Homo sapiens: one gene and its partners. The protein of the gene in region 2 purifies or fractionates together with the protein of the main gene of each other region. This does not show direct contact. Each region holds a gene or a part of one and is shown on either strand. Other genes may lie near its edges.

Evidence for each region. Proteins that work in one complex are often made in the same cells at the same time.
Region 1: the proteins of VIRMA (region 2) and CTNNA1 purify together in Homo sapiens (affinity purification with mass spectrometry; 2 studies listed by BioGRID and IntAct, with this or other methods). This does not show direct contact.
Region 3: the proteins of VIRMA (region 2) and SERBP1 purify together in Homo sapiens (affinity purification with mass spectrometry; 2 studies listed by BioGRID). This does not show direct contact.

The regions. Positions count from the first base shown.
Region 1 is NC_000005.10:138,755,983-138,763,424, reverse strand, and holds part of CTNNA1 (catenin alpha-1), read right to left. Parts: intron 1-7,442. UniProt on the Homo sapiens protein: Associates with the cytoplasmic domain of a variety of cadherins. The association of catenins to cadherins produces a complex which is linked to the actin filament network, and which seems to be of primary importance for cadherins cell-adhesion properties.
Region 2 is NC_000008.11:94,550,136-94,558,622, reverse strand, and holds the start of VIRMA (protein virilizer homolog), read left to right. Parts: upstream 1-5,153; 5' UTR 5,154-5,175; coding exon 5,176-5,238; intron 5,239-8,487. UniProt on the Homo sapiens protein: Associated component of the WMM complex, a complex that mediates N6-methyladenosine (m6A) methylation of RNAs, a modification that plays a role in the efficiency of mRNA splicing and RNA processing.
Region 3 is NC_000001.11:67,413,403-67,420,844, reverse strand, and holds part of SERBP1 (SERPINE1 mRNA-binding protein 1), read left to right. Parts: intron 1-658; coding exon 659-836; intron 837-5,505; coding exon 5,506-5,679; intron 5,680-7,442. UniProt on the Homo sapiens protein: Ribosome-binding protein that promotes ribosome hibernation, a process during which ribosomes are stabilized in an inactive state and preserved from proteasomal degradation.

The sequences.
Region 1 (7,442 bases), on a different chromosome or scaffold from region 2:
AAAGCTTGGATTAATATTGAAATATTGAATCTAATGAAATATTCAACATACCATGAGAGAATGGTAACAATGCATCTTTGCCTAGAAAGAATGCATGTAACAGAGCCGCACAGGGCAAATGCACTATCAAAGGCTCAATCCTTCAATTAACTTGAAATGGGCCATAGTGAATGTGTTTTCTGAGTTATAACAGCACTTTCATTTTCAAGAACAGTCTGTATGTAGTCTAACCTAGTTAATAAATACAGGATTATGTAACTTGGTAATTAACCAGGTTTCCAACTCACATCTTCAATTCAGAATGTCAAATACTGACAAAAAAAAACATAGCAATAAGACACTTTCAAGAGAGTTGATGAGCCACTTATTTTTGACAATATTTAATAATGAAACCTCAAAACAAGAAAATGAAGGAAATTCACAGCTTGATATGATGGAATCAAATAGTCAAAACTAAGCAATCTAGGGAAAAAATTAGCCTTTAAATTAGCAATTAAGAAAGATAAATTTTTCTTCTGTTAAGCCCTTTTAGTCTAAAAAGAAAAAAAAACCTCTTAGAGACAAAAATTACATTAGCTTCCACAATATAGTTCCATCCCTCCTTTTAATAAAATGGGAACATGAAAAAAATGACAGACATTTTAAAAATCACTTCACACTACTCATACAATATTGTTCAAAATGAGCAAATGTTACAAGTATTTAGAACATCCGAAGTTGCCCTGTGAACTGTATTTACATTACATGCATTACTCCAAACTTACAGCTGGTAAAAAAAAAAAACCACAAATTAAATCCCAATCAAAAAGAGGGGTTGATCGATGACAGCCCATCAACAAGTAAGTGGAAATACATGCTAATTTCAAGCTCCATTAGAAATGGAGTTGTGGCATACTTCCACATGGAGAAAAATAAGTTTGATAGTTATAAAAAAAAACTAAAGAAAATAATGAACATTTAAGGCTCTAACAGAGAAAGGGCAATGTTGACATTTTATTTTTGAAGTGTGGTTCTTTGCACACTTGGAACTTTCAATAATGGATAATTCAGTATAGTGCTCTCACAAGTGAGCAAACAGCATGAGACAAGGCAAGTCACGCTGGACTAATTCCCCACACTGTTCAGTCCATTCAATCCAGGCCCACAACATGTGGGGGACAGGGCAGATCACCAAGCAGTACATGTAATATCTTCAAGGTCTGGAAGCAGGCATACTGGTACCCAGGCAAGTTTCAGAAAGTGCTGCTCTATGAGACTCTTCCAGATGTGTTTTAACTTTTTCCTTACAGAAAACAGAAGCTGCTAATAAGACTTAAATCCTCCAACATGCATAGAATAATAACCTAAATTTCTTTAGGACTTCAAAGTGGGCCAGGCGCAGTGGGTCACGCCTGTAATCTCAGCTCTTTGGGAGGCCAAGGCAGGTGGATCACTTGAGCTCAGGAGTTTGAGACCAGCCTGGGAAACACGGTGAAACTCTGTCTCTACAGAAAACACAAAAATTAGCCAGGCATTGTGGCAGGCGCCTGTAGTCCCAGCTCCATAGGAGGCTGCGGTGAGGGGATCACTTTCAACCCGGGAGGTCAAGGCTGCAGTGAGGTGTGATTGCACCACTGCACTCCAGCCTGGATGACTGAGTGAGACCCTGTATCAACAACAACAAAAAGACCTCAAAGTGTGTGGTTTTGGTCACTTGAGAAAAAAATGATTTGGGCAGAGAAGGTAGAAAGAATAATTGGGTTCATGTTTTTCACTACTTATTTATTATCTCCATATAGAAGGCCAAACTCACCCCCAAAATTTTTTTGAGTAAATTTTTTTACCTGTTCATTTTTCCACCTTTTATGCACAATAAAATTCACTCTCTCGTATACCAATCTAAAAACAGCTGTGTGGGCCAGGTGAGTGGCTAAAGCCCGCAATCCCAGCACTTTAGGAGGCGGACGGATCATTTGAGGTCAGGAGTTCAAAACCAGCCTGGCCAAAATGGTGAAACCCCGTCTCTACTAAAAGTACAAAAATTAAACAGGTCGTGGTGACACATGCTTGCAAATCCCAGCTACTCAGGAAGCTGAGGCAGGAGAATCATTTGAACTCAGGAAGTGGAGGTTGCAGTGAGCCGAGATCATGCCACTGCACTCCAGACTGGGCGACAGGGTGAGACTCTGTCTCAAAAAAAATAAATAACAGTTGTGTGATCACCTCCACAATCAAGATACAGAGAAGTCAAATGAATTTATTTTCACAACAGCATGTACCTACAACTAATCCACAGAATATAAGAGTACAAAATATTATTTACTTAGAACACCTGCTTCAAGAGCTAAGTGGGCATCAACTTCTGAAGAGGCTGACGAAGGACTACAGTTGACAAGGCAGATCCCTAACATCCCTGACAAGGAACGTTCCTGAACAGAAATTCAGTACCAAACCCTTTCTGGATGACATCATCACCAGCATGTGGCCTTCCAGAACTTATTATATATCCAACCAGCCCGAGAGACATCTCCTCTTCTATCCAAGTTTGTGACCTGCTATTAAAACCCCCCTTTCAGCTTCATTCAACAGTCAGCCTACAGTCACACCACTTCAAGTACTCAGACAATAGATCAAGAATGTCTAAAGTGGAAAATACCCTGATGTACCACAGGTGATGATAAAGTACATTTCTGGAGAGGAATTTGGAAAAATTTTAAGAGCTATAAAAAAGTAGCATACCTTGGAAATAATCCAAACGTCCATCAACATATGAATGGATAGGTCAGACGTGGTGGCTCACGCCTGTAATCCCAGCAGTTTTCGAGGCTGAGGCAGGTGAATCATTTGAGGTCAGGAGTTAGAGACCAGCCTGGCCAATATGGTGAAACCCCGTTTCTACTAAAAATAAAGAAATTAGCCGGGTGGTAGTGGCGCACACCTGTAATCCCAGCTACTCAGGAGGCTGAGGCAGGAGAATCGTTTTGAGCTTGGGAGGCAGAGGTTGTGGTGAGCCAAGATCGCACCACTGCACTCCAGCCTGGACAACAGAGACTCTGTCCCCTCCAAAAAAAAAAGTATGAATGGATAAACAAAATATGGCATATACATACAATAAATGGAACATTATTCAGCCTTTAAAAGGAAAGAAATCCGGCTGAGCACGGTGGCTCACTCCTGCAATCCCAGCACTTTGGTAGGCCGAGGCGGGTGGATCACCTGAGGTCAGGAGTTCAAGACCAGCCTGACCAACATGGAGAAACCCCGTCTCTACTAAAAATAACAAAATTAGCCAGGCATGGTGGCGCATGCCTGTATCCCAGCTACTCAGGAGGCTGAGGCAGGAGAATCGCTTGAACCCGGGAGGCGGAGGTTGTGGTGAGCCAAGATCGCGCCATTGCACTCCAGCCTGGGCGACAAGAGTGAAACTCCATCTCATAAAAAAAAAAAAAAAAAAAAAAAAAAAAAGGAAAGAAATTCTGGGAGAGGATTCCAGATTCTAAAACAGCAGAGTAGGAAGCACCAAGATCAGTCTCCCCACCTAGACAATTACACTGGCATAATTAGTCAGATGTAATTCTGGGGACTGTTGAAGAAAGCTTGCAACTTCCAAGGAAAGACTGGGACAGTAAATTGGGTTAATTTCAGTCAATTTCAGCCCTTAGCTGAGCAGCAGCTACCCCATTCCCTAGCCCCCAGCCACGGGCAGACAACCTACAATGCATTCCTGAAACAGCTTGCAAGCAGCTTTTGGGAACCAGGATGGGTAATAAGGACCCTGTCCTCCAAATATTAGGGATCCGTATTCTAATTGCTGATTGCTGCTTATAATCAGGGATAGGCAGACACTGAGAAGGATAGCCATTATTGCACCCCCTCCATGACTGCAAGTCCTCCCCCTCCAGCTGAAGTAGACTTCCAGGAAATTTAATGGGCCAAGGGCCCCCACCTCCCTACTTCCTTCATTTTTCTCTTTTTCCTCTTTAGGAGCTAGACTTTAAAGACTAGGATATTCAAAAGCAATCATGAGGGTGCGGGGGAGATAAGGAAAAAAGTTACCATGGTGCATGCGCCCAGGGAAAGGTGCAGGCTCAAAAAAGACCTGAGAAGTCCTTAAGTTTGTATCTCAGGCTGATCCTCAGCATAAAAACAAACTGTAACAAATAAACAAAAAAATCCAGCAAACCCTGGGAATGAGAAGAGTCCAATTTTCAGAGTTAGCACATCATTAGATTCAAATGTCCAGTTTTCAAAAAAAAATTAAAAAGTCCCAGGTCATACAAAGATACAGGAAAGTATGACCCATTAAAAGAAAAAAAAAATTAACCAATAAAAACTGTCCCAGTTGCTGGGCACGGTGGCTCATGCCTGTAATCCCAGTACTTTGGGAAGCCAAGGCTGGCTGATCACCTGAGGTCAGGAGTTCAAGACCAGCCTGACCAACATGGAGAATCCCTGTCTCTACTTAAAATACAAAATTAGCCAGGTGTGGTGGCGCATGCCTGTAATCCCAGCTACTCAAGAGGCTGAGGCAGGAGAATCGCTTAAAGCCAGGAGGCAGTGCAGTGAGCCAAGATCACGCCATTGCACTCCAGTCCGGGCAACGAGAGCAAAACTCCATCTCAAAAAAAAAACAAAAACTGTCCCAGAGAAAGACCAGATGGAAGACCTACTAGACAAAGACATTAAAACAACTGTCTTACAGATGTTCAAAAAACTAAAGGAAGGTATGGGAAAAATCAAGAAAATAATGTATTTTAAAAATAAAAATATCAGCCGGGTGTGGTGGCTCACACCTGTAATCCCAGCACCTTGGGAGGCCGAGGTGGGCAGATCACGAGGTCAAGAGATCAAGACTATCCTGGCCAACATGGTGAAATGCCATCTCTACTAAAAATACAAAAATTAGCTGGGCGTGGTGGCATGTGCCTGTAGTCCAGCTATTTGCGAGGCTGAGGCAGGAGAATCACTTGAACACGGGAGGCAGAGGTTGCAGTGAGCCAAGATCGTGCCACTGCACTCCAGCCTGGTGACAGAGCGAGACTCCGTCTCAACAACAACAACAAACAAACAAAAAAAGTTAGCCGGGTGTGGTGGCAGGCGCCTGCAGTCCCAGCTACTAGGGAGGCTGAGGCAGGAGAACGGCATGAACCCGGGAGGCGGAGGTTGCAGGGAGCCAAGATCGCACCACTGCACTCCAGCCTGGGTGACAGAGCAAGACTCCATCTCAAAAAAAAATAAAAATAAATAAAATAAATAAAATTAAAATACCAGATTAGCCAGGTGTGGTGGCACATGCCTGTAATCCCAGCTACTTGGGAGGCTGAGGCAGAAGAATCACTTGAACCCAGGAGACAGAGGTTGCAGTGAGCCGACATCACGCCATTGCACTCCAGCCTGGGCAACAAGAGCAAAACTCCATCTCAAAAAAAAAAGAAATAGGAGAAAAAAAGAATATATTACACATAAGCTGAGGACTGCATGGAGAGGATTTCATCAGTGATTAGATCTGGGTGGCAAGGAAGAAGAATGGGCTGTAGATGGTTCTCAGTTTGCCCAAATTTGTTATTGGAGGCCCTCCATAATCTGACTGTTGCCTCATCTGTTATCATTCCATCCACAAGCTAGACTCCAGGCAGAAAAGACTTTTTCCTCCTTCACTCAACAAGCATCTAATTTGCCCTCCATGCCAGGTACTAAGCACCAAGACAAGAACTAAGACTCTCAGTTCCTGCCTTCAAGGAGCTTACAAGGCTCCCTTCCTAGCAGTAAAGGCAAACAGGTACATCAATAATAACGTACAGCATAATGTAATGCACCACCCAGTGCTAAAAAATTTGCTACCAGAAACGAAAGTGCTGAGTCTTAAGATATGACTAAAAGCTCATCATGAAAGGTTATGTTGGGAGAGTAGAAGGGAATCACTGAGGAAGCAACTTTACCCTAGGCCCCCAACATCCAGTCCATTTTCTTTTTTTCTGAGTCAGGGTCTCACTGTGTTGCCCAGGCTGGAGTGCAGGGGCATGATCATAGTTCACAGCAGCCTTGAACTGTTTTTAAATACTGTATGCCTCAGCGGCATTACATATATTCACGATCCATTTCCAGAACTTTTTTCATCTTCCCAAACCGAACTCTGTACCCATAACAATAGCTCCCTATTCCCCTTCACCTGGCCCCTAACAACCACCATTCTGTTTTCTTTCTTTCTCCTTCCTTCCTCCCTCCCTTCCTCCCTTTTTTTCTTTTGTTTGAGACAGGGTCTCACTCTGTCACCCAGGCTGCAGTGTGACATGATCAGAGCTCACTGCAACCTCCACCTCCCAAGCTCAAGCAATGAATCCTACCACCTCAGCCTCCTGAGTAGCTGGGACTACAGAGCGTGTCACCATGCCTGGTTGATTTTTTTTTTTTTAGAGGCGGGGTCTCATAAAGTTGCTCAGGCTGGTCTTGAACTCCTAGCTTCAAGTGATCCTCCCAACTCAGCCTCCCAAAAAAACAGGATTATAGGCATGAGCCTCCCTGTCCAGCCCCAATCCATATTTAAGTCCTGTCTCATTTCTCCAAAATACAGCTCCCTTCATCCCTACCACCTCGTACTCCACCATCTTCCTAGCTCAACTCTCTGCTTCCACATGCACACAAACACAAGCCTTCTCCAAGCACTAGCAGGAGTCTTAAAAAGGAAATCAAATCATGAAACTCCCTACAATGGCTTCTTACACCTCTAGAATAAAACCCCAACATGGCCTCTGCCTTCTCTGGCAATCTCATGTGAGGTCTTCTCCCCACTGAAAAAGTACCCAAGCTATACAAGTCTTCTCTCAAGTCTCTAAACACACGGAGTCTTTCCTGTCTCAGGACCTCTACAAATGCAGAGGGCCCTGTTCCTTCTCTCCATATTCTCACCAGCACACAACACTACCCCCAACAATCAGGGCTGTCTGTTATGCCCCACAGTGAGTTACGTTCTCAAAGAAATCCGAAAGTGCGGTGGCTCACACCTGTAATCCCAGCACTTTAGGAGGCTGAGGCGAGTGGATCACCTGAGGTCAGGAGTTAAAGACCAGACTCACCAATATGATGAAACCCCATCTCTGCTAAAAATTAAAAAATCAGGCTGGGCACGGTGGCTGAAGCCTGCAATCCCAGCACTTTGGGAGGCCGAGGTGGATCACGAGGTCAGGAGTTTGAGACCAGCCTGGCCAACATGGTGAAACCCTCTCTATCAAAAATACAAAAAAATTAGGCAGGCATGTTGGCACACACCTGTAATCCCAGCTCCTTGAGGTTGAGGCAGGAGAGTTGCTTGAACCCAGGAGGCACGGGTTGCAGTGAGCCGCAATTATGCCACTGCACTCCAGCCTGGGAGACACAGCAAGACTATCTCAAAATAAATAAATAAATAAATAAATAAATAAGCCGGGCGTGGTAGCTTGCACTTAGTAATCCCAGCTACTCCGGAG
Region 2 (8,487 bases):
GGTGAAAGATCTCTACAAGGAAAACTACAAAACACTGCTGAAAGAAATAATAGATGACACAAACAAATGGAAACACATCCCACACTCATGGATGGGAAGAATTTTATTTTATTTATTTAATTAATTAATTAATTTTTTGAGGCGTCTTACTCCGTCACCCAGGCTGGAGTGCAATGGCACAATCTCAGCTCACTGCAACCTCTGCTTCCTGGGTTCAAGCAATTTTCCTGCCTCAGCCTCTCAAGTAGCTGGGACTACAGGCACATGCCACTACACCTGGCTAATTTTTGTATTTTTAGTAGAGCTAGGGTTTTGCCATGTTGGCCAGGCTAGTCTTGAACTCCTGACCTCAAGTGATCTGCTCGCCTCAGCCTTCCAAAGTGCTGGGATTACAGGCATATGCCACAGCGCCCGGGCCGGAATTTTGATATAGGAGTTAAAGAGAAATTATTTAGGCAGATAGTGAGGGTGAGGAAGTTCTCAGTAAGGTTTTCCTTTTAATGAAAAGCAGCCCCCAAATCATCTTGTTTCTAACAAAGAGCAGCCTGTAAAATGGAGCTGCACACATGTACAAGCAAGCTGGAAGCTTGCATGGGTGAATGCCAGCAGTTGTGCCAATAGGAAAAGGCCACCTGGGACTAGGCATGTTCAAAATGGTGGCTCCATCTTCCCTTTTCTTTTCCAACCGTGTGTGCAGTAGGGAGCAGACAACATGGTACTGACCAAGTGGAAAGCCTATTTGCATAATAAGATTAGGGTAGGGCAGCCAGCTTCCTCGCACACTATGTAAACATCACACCCGGTCCAACCAATCTGTGGGCCCTATGTAAATCAGACACTGCCTCCTCAAGCCTGTCTATAAAATCTGGTGCACTCCCCCGTGGGCTAGAATTCCCATTAGGGAGCTGCCCCCATGTCTGTCTGTCTGTCTGTCTCTCTCCCTCTCTCTCCCTCCCCCCCTTCAAGAGAGGGAGCTGTTCTCCTTTCTCTTTCTTGTGCTATTAAACCTCACTTCATGTGTGTGTCCACATCCTCGATTCCCTTGGTGTGAGACAACAAGCCTTGGGTATTACCCCAGACAATGATGCTGCTTCAGAATCAATATTGTGAAAATGACAATACTGACAAAAGCAATCTATAAATTCAATGCAATTTGCATTCAAATACCATCATCATTCTTCAAAGAACTTGAAAAAAAAATCCTAAAATTCATATGAAACAAAAAAAGACCCCAGATAGCCAAAGCAAGACTAAGCAAAAAGAACAAATCTGGAGGCAACACACCCTCTGAATTCAAACTATACCACAAGGCTATAGTTACCAAAACAGCATGGTACTGGTATAAAAGTAGGCATGTAGATCAGTGCAACATAATAGAGAACCCAGAAATAAAGCCAAATATTTACAGCCAACTGATCTTTGACAAAGCATACAAAAACATAAAGTGGGGAAAGGACACCCTATTCAACAAATGGTGCTGGGATGATTCGCAAGCCACATGTAGAAGAAGGAAACTGGATCCCCATCTGTGCCTGATACAAAAATCAACTCACAATGGATCAAAGACTTAAATCTGAGACCTGAAACTAAAAATTCTAGACGATAACATAGGAAAAATTCTTGTACACACTGGCTTAGGCAAAGAGTTCATGACCAATAATCCAAAAGCAAATACAACAAAAACAAAGGTAAATAGATGGGACCTAATTAAATTAAAAAGCTTCTGCACAGCAAAAGAAATAATCAGCAGAGTAAACAGACAATCCATTGAGTGGGAGAAAAATCTTCACAAACTACGTATCCAACAAAGGGCTAATATCCAGAATCTACAAATAACTCAAACAAATCAGCAAGAAAAAAATAAATTATCCCATCAAAAAGTGGGCAAAGGACATGAATAGACAATTCTTAAAAGAAAATATACAAATTCACCGGACACAGTGGCTCACGCCTATAATCCCAGCACTTTGGGAGGCCGAGGCGAGCATTGTCTGAGGCCAGGAGTTCAAGACTAGCCTGGCTAACATGGTGAAACCCCATCTCTACTAAAAATACAAAAATTAGCTGGGGGTGGTGGTGCACGCCTGCAGTCCCAGCTACTCAGGAGGCTGAGGCAGGAAAATTGCTTCAACCAGGGAGGCAGAGGGTGCAGTCAGCCAAGATCGAGTCATTGCACTCCAGCCTGCGCAACAGAGCAAGACTCCGTCTCAAAAACCAAAACAAAACAACAACAACAAATATATATATATATATATATAAATTGCCAATAAAGAAATGAAAAAATGCTCAACATCATTAATTATCAGGGAAATGCCAATCAAAACCACAATGAGATACCACCTTACTCCTGCAAGAATGGCCATAATTAAAAAATAAAAAAAAACAGATGTTGGCATGGATGTGGTGAAAGGGGAACACTTTTACACTGCTGGTGGGAATGTAAACCAGTACAACCACTATGGAAAACAGTATGTAGATTCCTTAAAGAACTAATAGTAGAACTACCATTTGATCCAATAATCCCACTACTGGGTATCTACTCAAAGGAAAAGAAGTCATTATATGAAAAAGACACTTGCACACACGTTTATAGCAGCACAGCTCACAGTTGCCAAAATACAGAACCAGCCTAAATGCCCATCGACCAACGAGTGGATAAAGAAAATGTGGTGTATATACATATATATACATATGGGAATACTACATATATATATATATATATATATATATATATATATATATATATATATATGGGAATATATATGGGAATACTACTAACTCAACCACAAAAAGGAACAAAATAATGGCATTTGCAGCAACCTGGATGGAGCTGGAGACCATCATTCTAAGTGAAGCAACTCAGGAATGGAAAACAAAACATGGCATGTTCTCACTATTAAGCAGGAGCTAAGCTATGAGGATGCAAACTCCTAAGAATTATATAATGGACTTTGGGGACTGGCGGCGGGGAAGGGTGGGCGAGGGAGTGAGGGATAAAAGACTACATACACATTGGATACAGTATACACTGCTCAGGTGATGGGTGCACCAAAACCTCAGAGATCACCACTAAAGAACTTTTCCATGCAACCAAACATCACCTGTTCCCTCAAAACTGTTGAAATAAAAATAAAAATGTAAAAAAAAAAAGGATATCAATGCTAAGAAAATCAGACTGTAAAAATGACAACTATAAAAGCACTATATAGTACATTGGTTAAGGGAGAGCTTAGGGGAAAATTTATATAAATACATATAGTAATAAATAAGAAATATGAATAAAAATAAACATCAGTGGTAGAAATTAGAGAACAGCATATAAGCCTAAACACAGAAGAAGGGGGGGGGCACGGTGGCTCACGCCTATAATCACAGCACTTTGGGAGGCTGAGGCAGGAGGATTGCTTGAAGCCAAGAGTTTGAGACCAGGCTGGGCAACGAAGCAAGACCCTGTTTCTAAAAAAAAAAAGAGGCAAGAATCAGAAAACAGAAAAATATTAAAAGCAATAAATATCAATGCAAGAACAAATAATAAAAGATAAACTATAGCTAGCTAATAGAGGAAACTGGATGGCTGAGGAAGGATGTGGAGAGGAGATTTACTTTAGAAATTCATTTATTATTAAATATTTCAGACATACCAGAAGGTACAAACAATAATATAAGGCATGCTTGTGAAATTAACATTAACCTAAATAACAAAACATTACCAAGGCATGTGAAGCCTTTCTGTTCTTCTCCATTACATCTCCTTCCAGTTTACCACTATCTTGAAATTTTAGTTACTCCAATACATGACTTTATAATTTCATGACATATGTACACTCCTAAAATTTTATATTCTTTTGCACGTTTTTAAATATATAGATGTTATTTTACACTATATATTTTTTATTTCCTTTTCTAAGAGATGGGTGTCCCCACTGGCCTCCAACTCCTGGGCTTAAGAGATTCTCCTGTCTCAGCTTCCCGAGAAGTTGGGACCACAGGAACACGCCACCGCACCCGGCTTGCGATGAGAGGAGTTAAACTTGTTTTGTTTTGGTTTGTGTCTTTTTTTTTTCTTTTTGTGAATAACGGGGTCTCGCTATATTGCCCAGGCAGTTCTCCAACTCCTGGGCTCAAGCGATCCTCCCGCTTCATCCTCCCTAAGTGCTGGATTACAGGCGTGAGCCAAAGCGCCCACCAACCCTGTTTTTTGGGTTTTTCATGCTAGTAAACATAGCACTGGTTCATTCTTCGTACCTGCTATATACTATTATATAAATACGCCACTATTTACTTATTACTTCTGTCAATGGCACTTATGTTTCCTGCTCTTTTGCAACTTATAAAGTTTGCTATGAATATTCTTGTATTTGTAGATACGTGGGCGAGAATTTTCCTAGAAGAGTGGTAGGCACGTGTAATTTTACAAGCTATTTCCTAGTTGCTCTGCTAAGGGTTTGTGCCATTTAGACTACCAAACCCGCTGAGTTTATCTCGTTGCTCCAAAGCTCATCAACACCCGACAGAGAGGCTTACTTTTCATTCTGCCTCCTGTTTTATTGTTCATGGTACTTCACGTTACACAATTCCTCGAATTTTATTTCAATTACTCCTCACAATCACCCTGTAGGTTAGGTACGATTTTTCACATTTTACAGATAAGAAAACAAAGAATCTCTTCGTTGGTTGAAACAACAGTTTTTCTTCTATTTAAATCAATGTCTTACTTTTCAACCTCGCTCACTGTTATCTTTTTGCTCCCAGCGCTGGAAAAAGTGGGACATCCCCTTCGGTGGGTGTACGGGGTTGGTATCCAAAGTTGGCAGCTTTCCCTCCCCCTCCTCCATCCACCGTCTCCAAAACCCCGTCTCCGCACTTCGCCACCCGGAGACCGCTGTAGCTCTGTAACGCGGAGGAACGACAGGGTTTGAACCACTGGAGACCCCGTAGTCCCCATCTCACTTCCCTCTGCCCCCCCTCTGCGTTCTAGGGGGCGCCCTCCGCCGCGCTGGAAAAGGCGGGGCCGGCAACTCCGGGCAACAAGATGCGTTGGGATAGGCCGAGGTTTGCGGCGCTAGTGCTCTGGTCACCGGAAGTCCCTCTGTTTCTCCCTCTCCTGAGTCGCTGTCGCGGAGGCTGGAGCGCTGCCCCGGAAGTCCTCCCCCCTGTTCCCCGCCCGCGGCAAACATGGCGGTGGACTCGGCGATGGAGCTGTTATTTTTAGATACTTTTAAACACCCGAGCGCTGAGGTAAGGCTTGGCGACTTGATTCTGACGCTGCTTCTTGACTTGGGATCTTTACAAAAAAACCGTTAGGCGTTCTCCACTTTTCCTTCTGCAGATTGCTTCTTTAATTTCTCGCTTACACACAGACACCCTCCCCCGAGCTGTGTGAGCATCGCGTCTGAGGGAGGGCTGCAGCAGCCCCTTCATTTCCTTGCTTTAACTTGGGCCCTCCGTGTCTTTGGTCGAGTTGGCTTTTCTGCTTGCATGGCTTTATTTTTTATTTTTCCTGTCAGGTTTGGGCCTTGAGAAGGATCAGGGTTCTCAGGTTTACCTCAGATGGCGTTTGGGAGGGGTCTTGGTTTGCCAGTAGTGTTTGACAGTAGTGCCGGAGTCTGAGCAGTTTACGTTGGCTTCGTGGTTTCCGAATCACGATGTTTCTAAATCCTTTCTCTTTGGCCTCTTTTCTGTCGGGAATTATGTTCCCCAGTTGTGACACTTACTTGGTTTAGGATTACGGTGCTCTCCGATTTGGCCTGAAACTTTAATACTTGTCTCTCGGAGAGATTTCACACATTAGGAATGAGATGCATTCACGGAGAATACTTGCGAAGAGGGGAGAGTTGAGAGAATTATAGTTAAACTCATCAGCAGACATCTCCTTTGAGGTTGGAGGTGGAATGTTGTGGAGTAATATTTCTGTACAAAACTACTTGAGCGCCCCTTAATGTACAATTGGCCCTGCAATATGTAGATTAAACATAGCTGGTTAACTAAAGATTCCTGAAAGCAGACCAAAAATGAACTTGAATGAAGTCTACGGAGAAATTGTTAAAAAAAAAAACGAACTTCACATTTTTCTGTCTTAATGTAAGCTTAATTTAGAGAACTGTTCTTTCTTTGGAGATTATTTTTTTCCTTTTATTTTTATCAAGTGTGCTCTTGTATCAAGCTTTTTGAGGACAGATATAATTTCTCTTTTTCTCAGCTGTATCTCCAGTGCCTAGGACAGTATTAGCAAAATGTAGGTGCTCAATAAATATTTGAATGGAAAATGTTTAAAATGTTCTTTCTTTTATGAGATAGTAATGATAGTGGGTAGTGATTGTATCATAATGCTTTACTTGGCAAAATAAAAAGTTGACAGCTGTGATCTAATTTAACGAATGGTTTATAGGTTTGTAAAAGTCAAAAGTTGGAGAACTTTGAGTTAGCATTTCTTACTGACAGTTAATTTATGGTCTGACATTTAATGTGGGTCAGTTAGCACTGTTTGTTCAATGACTATATCTAACATTCTAGCCGAGATTTAGAAAACCCTCAATGGAGGCAGTAGTTGGATCAGAACAAACTTATGGTGTATAGAAATAGAGAACAGTTAAAACTGAAAGAGCCTGGCGCAGTGGCTCATGCCTGTAATCTCAACGTTTTGGGAGGCGGAAGCAGAAGGATTGCTTGAGTCCAGGAGTTTGAGACCATCCTAGGCAACACAGTGCAACCCCTGTCTCTACAAAAGAAAATTAACTAGTTGTGGTGGTTTGATCTTGTTGCCCCAGCTACTCGGGAGGCTGAAGTGGAAGGATCATTTGATCCTGGGAGTTCAAGGCTGCAGTGAGCTAAGATCACACCACTGTGCTCCAGCCTGAGCAACAGAGTGAGACCCTGTCTCGAAAGGAAGAAAGAGAAAAAGGAAAAAGAGAAAGAGGCATGTGATGAATTAGTTTAGTACTATTCTAGTTTAGGAAAATTGGCCTTCATTAGTTTATCATGTATTTCTATTCTTTTATTCATTCTTAGGTAAACATTGAATACCTTGAGAGCATAGGGCAGATGGTAAATGCTTTCTTCTGGGGTGATTGGGGAAGGCTTAGCAGAGATCACATTTAAATCAAGTCTTGAAGGAGGAAGTAGGGGTTTGTGGGTGATACGAAATATTGAAATGTTTGTTTTCAAGAAGTTATAACTCAGTATTGGAGATTAGATTCACAAAATTGTGATTTGAGTTAGAATGTGATGATCACATAAAGAAGCACAGTGTGAATTCGTTGGGGTTTATCATCTTAGTTTACAAAATGCCCATCAGTATCTGACGTATTAGAACTAGCTCCCTTTGTGGGTATAAATAAAAGATACAAGATTTCAGAAGAGGCAGAGATAACTTTTCATTTGAGTGTATCAGGAAAGACTTCATCAAGGTGTTTGGCTTATGAACTTGGTCTTTGGTGAAAGGGGCAATATTTCACAGTTGTAGTTAGGAAAGGAGGGCATTCTACTGGGGTAGTCAGTCGTCTGTTAGGGTATGCTTGAAGTAGCAGTGTGAAGTGGCACCCAAGGCAATTCAAAGACAGATCATGGAGCTCCTTGAATGCTCGACAAAGAATTACAGACTTTAGGCCAGGCGCAGTGGCTCACGCCTGTAATCCCGGCACTTTGGTGAGGCTGAGGTGGGTGGATTGCCTGACGTCAGGAGTTCGACACCAGCCTGGGTAACACAGTGAAACCCCGTCTCTACTAAAATACAAAAAATTAGCTGGGCGTGGCGGTGTGCGTCTATAGTCCCAGCTACTCGGAAGGCTGAGGCAGGAGAATTGCTAGCACCCGGGAGGAGGAGGTTGCTGTGAGCCAAGATCACGCCACTGCACTCCAGCCTGTGCGACAGAGCAAGACTCTGTCTTTTAAAATAAATAAATACATAAATAAATAAAAATTATGGACTTTATTTTGTAGGAAATGGGTAGTTTTTGAGCAGGCGAATCATACAATTAGTAAGATACATTAGATAGATTACTTGATCAATAATACTTAAAATGGTTCAGAGAAGGCCAGGCGCCGTGGCTCATGCCTGTAATCCCAGCACTTTGGGAGGCCGAGGCAAGCGGATCACGAGGTCAGGAGATCGAGACCATCCTGGCTAACATGGTGAAACCCTGTCTCTACTAAAAATACAAACAAATAGCCGAGCGTGGTGGCAGGTGCCTGTAGTCCCAGCTACTCAGGAGGCTGAGGCCGGAGAATGGCGTGAACCCGGGAGGCAGAGCTTGCAGTGAGCCGAGATTGTGCCACTGCACTCCAGCCTGGGTGACAGAGCGAGACTCCGTCTCAAAAAGAAAAAAAAAAAAAATGGTTCAGAGAAAATAGAGGTGAGGTGACAAAATCAGAGAGAAAAAGTGAGATGTTATGAAAACCTGAGTTAGCCAATGGGCAGTAAGCATTGTTTAACATTTATTGAATGCTTAATTTGTGCCAGACACAGTGGGCTTTGATAACTTAAGTAAA
Region 3 (7,442 bases), on a different chromosome or scaffold from region 2:
AAATAATGAAACCAGTGTGTGTTTGTGGATAGTTCTATTAGTAGTGAATCCATGGCCTCCTTTCCATATACAGGTTGGTTTGAAAATTGGAGTATAAGGATTTTAGGATTTGTAGAAACACGGCTATTGTTTTGATTTGCTCTAAGTGCTAGTTGCTGAAACAAAGCATAGAGGAACAGTTCTTTTATATTCCAAAATTTGAACCCTGGTTGCTGACAGACATCCTAGAGGATTACCTTCTTGTATGTTATTAAGAGTTACATATTGTGGGAATTATGGAAATTAAAAATGTGGTTTAGGAGAAGATAGGCTGAGGATTTTACATAAGAGGGTAGTTTTTAAACAAGGTAGTGTTTTTAAGAAATGTGTATTTTAGTATTCGTAAAGCCAGTTCTAGATTGTATTACTGATAAATGATCATTTAAGAGTTCATAAGTATGAATTCCATATTCCTTACTTGTCTCTAATTAGCAAACACTGAATTCCTGGTCTCTACCAAGTTGCTTAGTTACATAGGAAACTAGGGTACCCTCATCCTTGAATAATCTTTCTCTAAAAGATTACAAGGTTAATTTTCTCAATTAAAATCATAAATTTAAAATACTTTTATGTAATATCAGCTCTCTACCAGGTATAAAACTTGAAAACCTTTTCACAGGGAGAATGAAGTTGAAGAGGTAAAAGAGGAGGGTCCAAAAGAGATGACTTTGGATGAGTGGAAGGCTATTCAAAATAAGGACCGGGCAAAAGTAGAATTTAATATCCGAAAACCAAATGAAGGTGCTGATGGGCAGTGGAAGAAGGGATTTGTTCTTCATAAATCAAAGAGTGAAGAGGTAAAATTAAGTTTTGTCGTGTTTGAAAATGTTCAGATGTGACTTGAATTGTATTTATAATTTTTGTTTTAAAATTTCACATGGGTTATTTGTCTGTTAAAGCTTTACATAGGATCATTTGGGGCAGATAATTTGCTTTATAAGGAAAATAAACTGTATTATCACATATTCTAAGAAATTTAGTCCTTTGATCAATTTGTAATTATGTTTTATGTGGTAGAGTTACTTTTTCCTAAAAAGCTGTTAGTGGAGTATCTTGTAGTTATTGGTGTTCAGAAATATGATAGTTCTTTTCAAAGTTGTGGTTGTATTTTTGAAATCTTGCCAAACTGGGGATCATTAAAGGGCTGTGGTATTATGGTGTTAGGTTGAAATCTTGACATTTTCATATGGTTTAACCTAAAATGTAAGTGACTTCATTTAGAATTCAACTTTTGAAACTGTCTGCCTATACCATATATAATGGCCAGGACACTCAGTAAATGGCAATGTGCATTTTGTCTAAGGAATGACGACTTTAAAAACCAAAGTATATGTGGGTTTTACTTAAGAAACATGGAAACTAGTGAAAATACAGTTGACTTGTTGAACAACATGAGGATGCTAGGGGCACTGACCCCGCAGATCAATGCACATGTAACCTTTGACTCTCCCAAAACTTAACTACTAATAACCTGTTGACTGAAAGTCTTAGTGATAACATAACCAGTTAACACATTTTGTATGTTGCGTATTATATACTGTGTTTTTACAGTAAAGTAAGCTAAAGAAAATGTTGAGAAAATATATTTACTGTTCATTAAGTGGAACTGGATCATCACAAAGGTCTTTATTTTGGATAGGAAGAAAAGGGATTGGGCTTGCTTGTCTCAAGACTGACAGAGGCAGAATGTTCAAAGCCACGTTGTTCAAGGGTCAACTGTATTGGAGAAAGTCACATTGATGGCTTTTGATTTGGTAGCTTCCGTTTAAGCTTTGGGGTGTGTTCTTAGAGGAATGTTTCAGTGCGGCTTCCTGTTTGGCTTTAAAAACTCATACAAGCCCTAACTATATTATTTCTTCTCCTAAATTCATTTTCTCTATCAGCTTCCTTTAACCTTTTGACATTTGTGTTTGATTTATTCATATCATAAATTGGGCTGTGCCAGAAATCCAGACTGAGTTTTATCATCCTAAGGTAAAGTTAAATTAAAATATTGTGAGGGCAAACCCTTTCAATAAGGTATTAGTTATTTTTATTTTTTTTTTTTGAGACAGAATCTGGCTCTGTCGCCCAGGCTGGAATGCAGTGGCACCATCTCTGCTTACCGCAACCTCCACCTCCCGGATTCAAACAGTTCTTGTGTCTCAACCTCCTCAGTAGCTGGGATTACGGACACTCGCCACCATGCCCGGATAATGTTTGTGTTTTTAGTAGAGATGAGGTTTCATCATGTTGGCCAGGCTGGTCTCAAACTCCTGGCCTCAGTGATCCCCGCCTGCCTCAGCCTCCCAAAGTGCTGGGATTATAGGCGTGTGCCACCATGCCCAGCCAATAAGCATAATTTTTTAAACTGCAAAATGGCTATAAGACAAACTTGGAAACATTTTAAAATAAAATGGAGGTTAAAAAGATTAAAAGTTTTTTTAGGTTTAGAGATGATTTTTAACATTTACTTCATATGAGTAGTAAATGAGGACATTGTCTTTTTTAAGTCCTGTAGAAAAAAAACTGCATTAGAACACGTGGTTTCAGCCAGGCGCAGTGGCTCACACCTGTAATCCCAGCACTTTTGGGAGACTGAGGCGGGCGGATCACCTGAGGTCGGGAGTTCAAGACCAGTCTGACCAACATGGAGAAACCCCGTCTCTACTAAAGATACAAAATTAGCCTGGTGTGGTGGTGCATGCCTGTAATCCCAGCTACTCAGGAGGCTGAGGCAGGAGAATCACTTTAACACAGGAGGCAGAGGTTGCAGTGAGCTGAGATCACACCACTGCACTCCAGCCTGGGCAACAGAGCAAGACTGTCTCAAAAAAAAAAAAAAAAAAAAAAAACAACACTTTAACTTTCACATGTCTTCATTCTCGTGACAAATGTGAGGTAGTTAAGGGGAAGGAAGAAACTATTTACAAATGGAGAACTGTGTTACCGTGTTATTGACAGAGCTCAGAGTTTCTGTTTTCTGCTCCTCATTGTCTGAGTGCTCTAGAAAAAAGGTCGGACACAGTGGCTTACACCTGTAATCCCAGCACTTCGGGAGGCTGAGGTGGGCAGATTGTTGAGTTAAAAGTTTGAGACCAGCCTGGGTAACATGGCAAAACCCTGTTTCTACAAAAAATATAAAAATTATCTGGATGTGGTTGCGTGCACCTGTGGTCTCAGTTACCTGGGAGGCTGAGGCGGGAGAGGATCACTTGAGCCCAGGAGGCAGAGGTTGCAGTGAGCCAAGATAGCATCACTGCATTCCAACCTAGTTGACAGAGCAAGACTGTTTCAAAAAAAGGAAAAAAGAAAAAAAAAAAGGATCCCCCTGCCCTGACTTTATCCCAGTACAGTTTCTTGGTATCTGCAGGGGATTCGTTCCAGGACCCAGAGATATTAAAATTTTCAGATGCTCATGTCCATTATATAAAATGGCATAGTATCTGCATATAGCCTAAACACGTTTTCCCTATACTTTATTTTTTATTGTTTCTATTTTTTAATTTAAAATATAGAACAATTTACAGTTTTGCGTGTCATCCTTGTGGGGATCATGCTAATAATCTTTGTATTGTTCCACTTTTAGTATATATGCTGCCAAAGTGAGCACTCCCTCATACACTTTATTTTGAGACAAGGTCTTGCTCTGTCATGTAGGCTGGAATGCAGTAGCATGGTCACAGCTTACTGCAGCCTCAACCTCCCCGTGCTCAAGCGATCCTTCTAGCTCAGCCTCCTGAGTAGCTGGAACTACACACCTGTGCCAACTCCTGGACTCAAGCAGCCCTTCTGCCTATGCCTCCCAGAGTGCTGGGATTACAAGTGTCAGCCACCACACCTGGCCTACTTTTTATTGTTATATGGTTGGTTGGTTTTATTTTTTTCTGAATATTTTCGATCTGTGGTTTGCAATAAATTGAAAGCATTGGTTTGAAATAGCAAACATTTAAAAATCACACAATTAGTATATATAATTGATTCTAATTTGCTGGTGTTTTGTGAATTTGTTTTTATGTTTCTAGCCTCCTTTAAAATTTGTATTAGAACATTCTATTGCCTTACAGTGTGTTGGTTTGGTACAAAGGAGTGACATTTAATACTAGTATGAGTTGATGTAAGGGGTGAAAACATGGATAAAAACACAAAAATTTATTTGTACTTTAAAGGCTAGTTATTAACAGCTGTAATATTTTAAGTTGAGTCTAATGGAATTGTAATAGTACAAGTTCTAATGAAAGAACAAAATGTTCTTTATCCCTTTAGAAAAGAAGATTCCTTAGATGTATTTAGGAAAAGAGGAAAAGAAAGCTGTACTTTCAAGTCCTATAAGTACAGTTTTCAACTAGAAGATTAAAACCCATCCCAAGCGTACAAGAAGACATCAGGCATGAAGCAGTATAGAATTGTCTGGCTTTTTGCTTTTTTCCCCCAGACTGGGTCATGTATCTTAAACGCAAATAGAAAAGAGGATCTGGATTTCACAAACATGACTTCATTTTTAAGAAGTTTCTAGCTGGGCATGGTGGCTCATGCCTGTAGTCCCAGCACTTTGGAAGGCCAAGGCCAGCGGATCGCTTGAGCCTAGGAGTTTGAGACCAGCCTGAGCAACACTGTGAAAACCTGTCTATAAAAAATACAAAAAAATTAGCCAGGTGTCATGGCATGTGCCTATAGACCCAGCTACTTGGGAGGCTGAGGTGGGAGGATCGCTTGAGCCTGGGAGGTGGAGGTTGCAATGAACCCAGATCGTGCCACTGCACTCCAGCCTGGGTGACAGAGTGAGACCCTGTCTCAAAAAAAAAAAAAAAAAAAGGTTCCTGTGACACATTTAAGGTGTGGTTTTATTTGTGCATAGCTTTACAAGATTCCCCTCTTTATGTAAAGTGTGTAGTGTTTCACTTGAATTTGTAGCTCTCCAATTTGTGTAGAAAAACGTAGTGGTTGTGTATTAACAGAAAATGCTTCTGAGAAGTTTATATCTAGTAAGGTCTTTACCCTAGTTGTAGTTGGAAGAGTGTAGAACAGAGTTTTTCTTTCTGAGTGTTCTTTTTAACTTCAGTGTTAGTGCTAGTAGTAACCTTATATGTCATCTCTCCAGAGGTCTTCATCAAGGATTCACATGGCAGTCCTGATCTGAAGGGCATATTTAAAATGTACTTGTCCAGATTTCACTGCTAAAGATTATGATTCAGTAGGTCTAGGATGGGCTTCAGCCGTTTGGGTTGATTGTGATAGCATACATGTCTTTAGTTGAGGACTGCTGGTATTACCTGCAATTTTGAGATAGAGAAAAGTGCAGGAAAATCTTCCTCCAGGATCACTAAAGCTGAGCCCTAGCTTGTTACCTGTGGAGGCATTGAGACATTTGTTCACAGAAAGTACAGTTTGGATTTTTGGTTTTTTTTAGAAGAAAGCTCATTATTTAGAAATTTTGCAATGTTACTTTTCTACTAATAACACAATCATCTTCACTTATATTTTTAGGCTCATGCTGAAGATTCGGTTATGGACCATCATTTCCGGAAGCCAGCAAATGATATAACGTCTCAGCTGGAGATCAATTTTGGAGACCTTGGCCGCCCAGGACGTGGCGGCAGGGGAGGACGAGGTGGACGTGGGCGTGGTGGGCGCCCAAACCGTGGCAGCAGGACCGACAAGGTAATTTAAGACTTTCTTTTCCTTTTACATAATTTAAGGACCTCTTATAAGTCACTGGCTGGGTCAGACTTATGTCACTTTTGGGAACATAAGTAGAAGTAGTAGCAGTGTCTTTAAGAAACCGCATGTTAGGTTATATTTATGTTTAAAGCACTTAAATGCCTTTTTGTGTAGTGCTGTTAGTAGTGTTAAGTTACCACCCTTTTGAGTTCTTTCTAGGTGCCGGTCATGGTGCTGGGCTAGGCATTTTATGTACTTAATGTCATTTAATTCTTGTTACTGTGATGACATTCTCATTTTCCAGATGAGAAAATTCTGGTATAGTGAATCAGGTTAACTCTTGGCCTTTGCTAAGGCTTACCTGAAAACCAGTCTGTTCACTTTGATAATTCCTAACTGCTTTTTAGGTCTCCACTTAATAACCATTGTGTTCCTTGTATAATTCCTCTTACGACACTTAGGATTGTTGACACTTTTTTCTTTTACTAGACTCTTCTGTGAGAGCTGGGATTCATTTTTGGCTTACTTTCTATAATCTCTCCAATGCCTTGAACAGTATGTGGCACAAAACAAGTTCTTAGAGAAATATTTTGGTGAATTCCCAAGTAATTGATAGATTTGAACTCAGATCTGATGCTTGGAAACAACCATAATGTCCTCCTAAATTCTCAACACCTTACACACAAATTTGGGGACCCACCTACTTGATTGAGTCTGTTTTTGATGATTACAGGGGTAACTTACCATTGCCAGTGTAATGATACTTTGTTCCTCCCTCTAAGACCAACCTTTTTTTTTTAAGGTGGTGGTTGTGTTGATGGGCTTTTCCCATACTTTCTTTTTTAGTTCTGTTATTTATACTTTAGGCTATAAAGAGCAGTTTGGATTCCTTTTTTCAGACTTTCAACCTTGATGATTATTGCTACTTAGATATTAGTTCCTTAGCATGCTTTCACATTGGTGCCATTCTTATTTAGCAAGTGGAAAAAGTATAAGAATACTGAACAATGCGAATTCACATACATAATTGCTTATGAATCTACTTGTATGGTTTATTGGAAAAAGTAAAACAACTGGGCTGGGCGCACTGCCTCACGCCTGTAATCCCAGTACTTTGGGAGGTCTGGGTGAACAGATCACCTGAGGTTGGGAATTTGAGACCAGCCTGGCCAACGTTGTGAAACCCTGTCTCATTAGCCAGGTGTGGTGGCACATCCCTGTAACCTAGCTACTTGGGAGGCTGAGGCACAAGAATCACCTGAACCCAGGAGGTGGAGGTTGCAGTGAACTGAGATTATGTTACTGCACTCCATCCTGAGCAACAGAGTAAGACTGTCTCCAAAAAAAAAGAGAAAAAGAAAACAACCCATATTATTACTCTGGAATGAAAATAGGCCTTGGTAGAAATTTAGGACAGGGCTCATTGCAAATACTTGTAGTTTTTTTGTGATCCATAATTTTGTCTTGATACATTTTACCTAGAATTTTAACAGTAGGATTTTTTTTTTTTTTTTTTTGAGATGGAGTCTCACTCTGTTTCCCAGGCTGGAGTGCAGTGGCACAGTCTCGGCTCACTGCAACCCTTGCCTCCCAGGTTCAAGCGATTCTCCTGCCTCAGCCTCTTGAGTAGTGGGATCACAGGTGCCTGCCACCACACCCAGCTAATTGTTTATATTTTTAGTACAGACAGGATTTCACCATGTTGGCCAGGCTGGTCTCAAACTCCTGACCTCAGGTGATCCACCCACCTTGGCCTCCCAAAG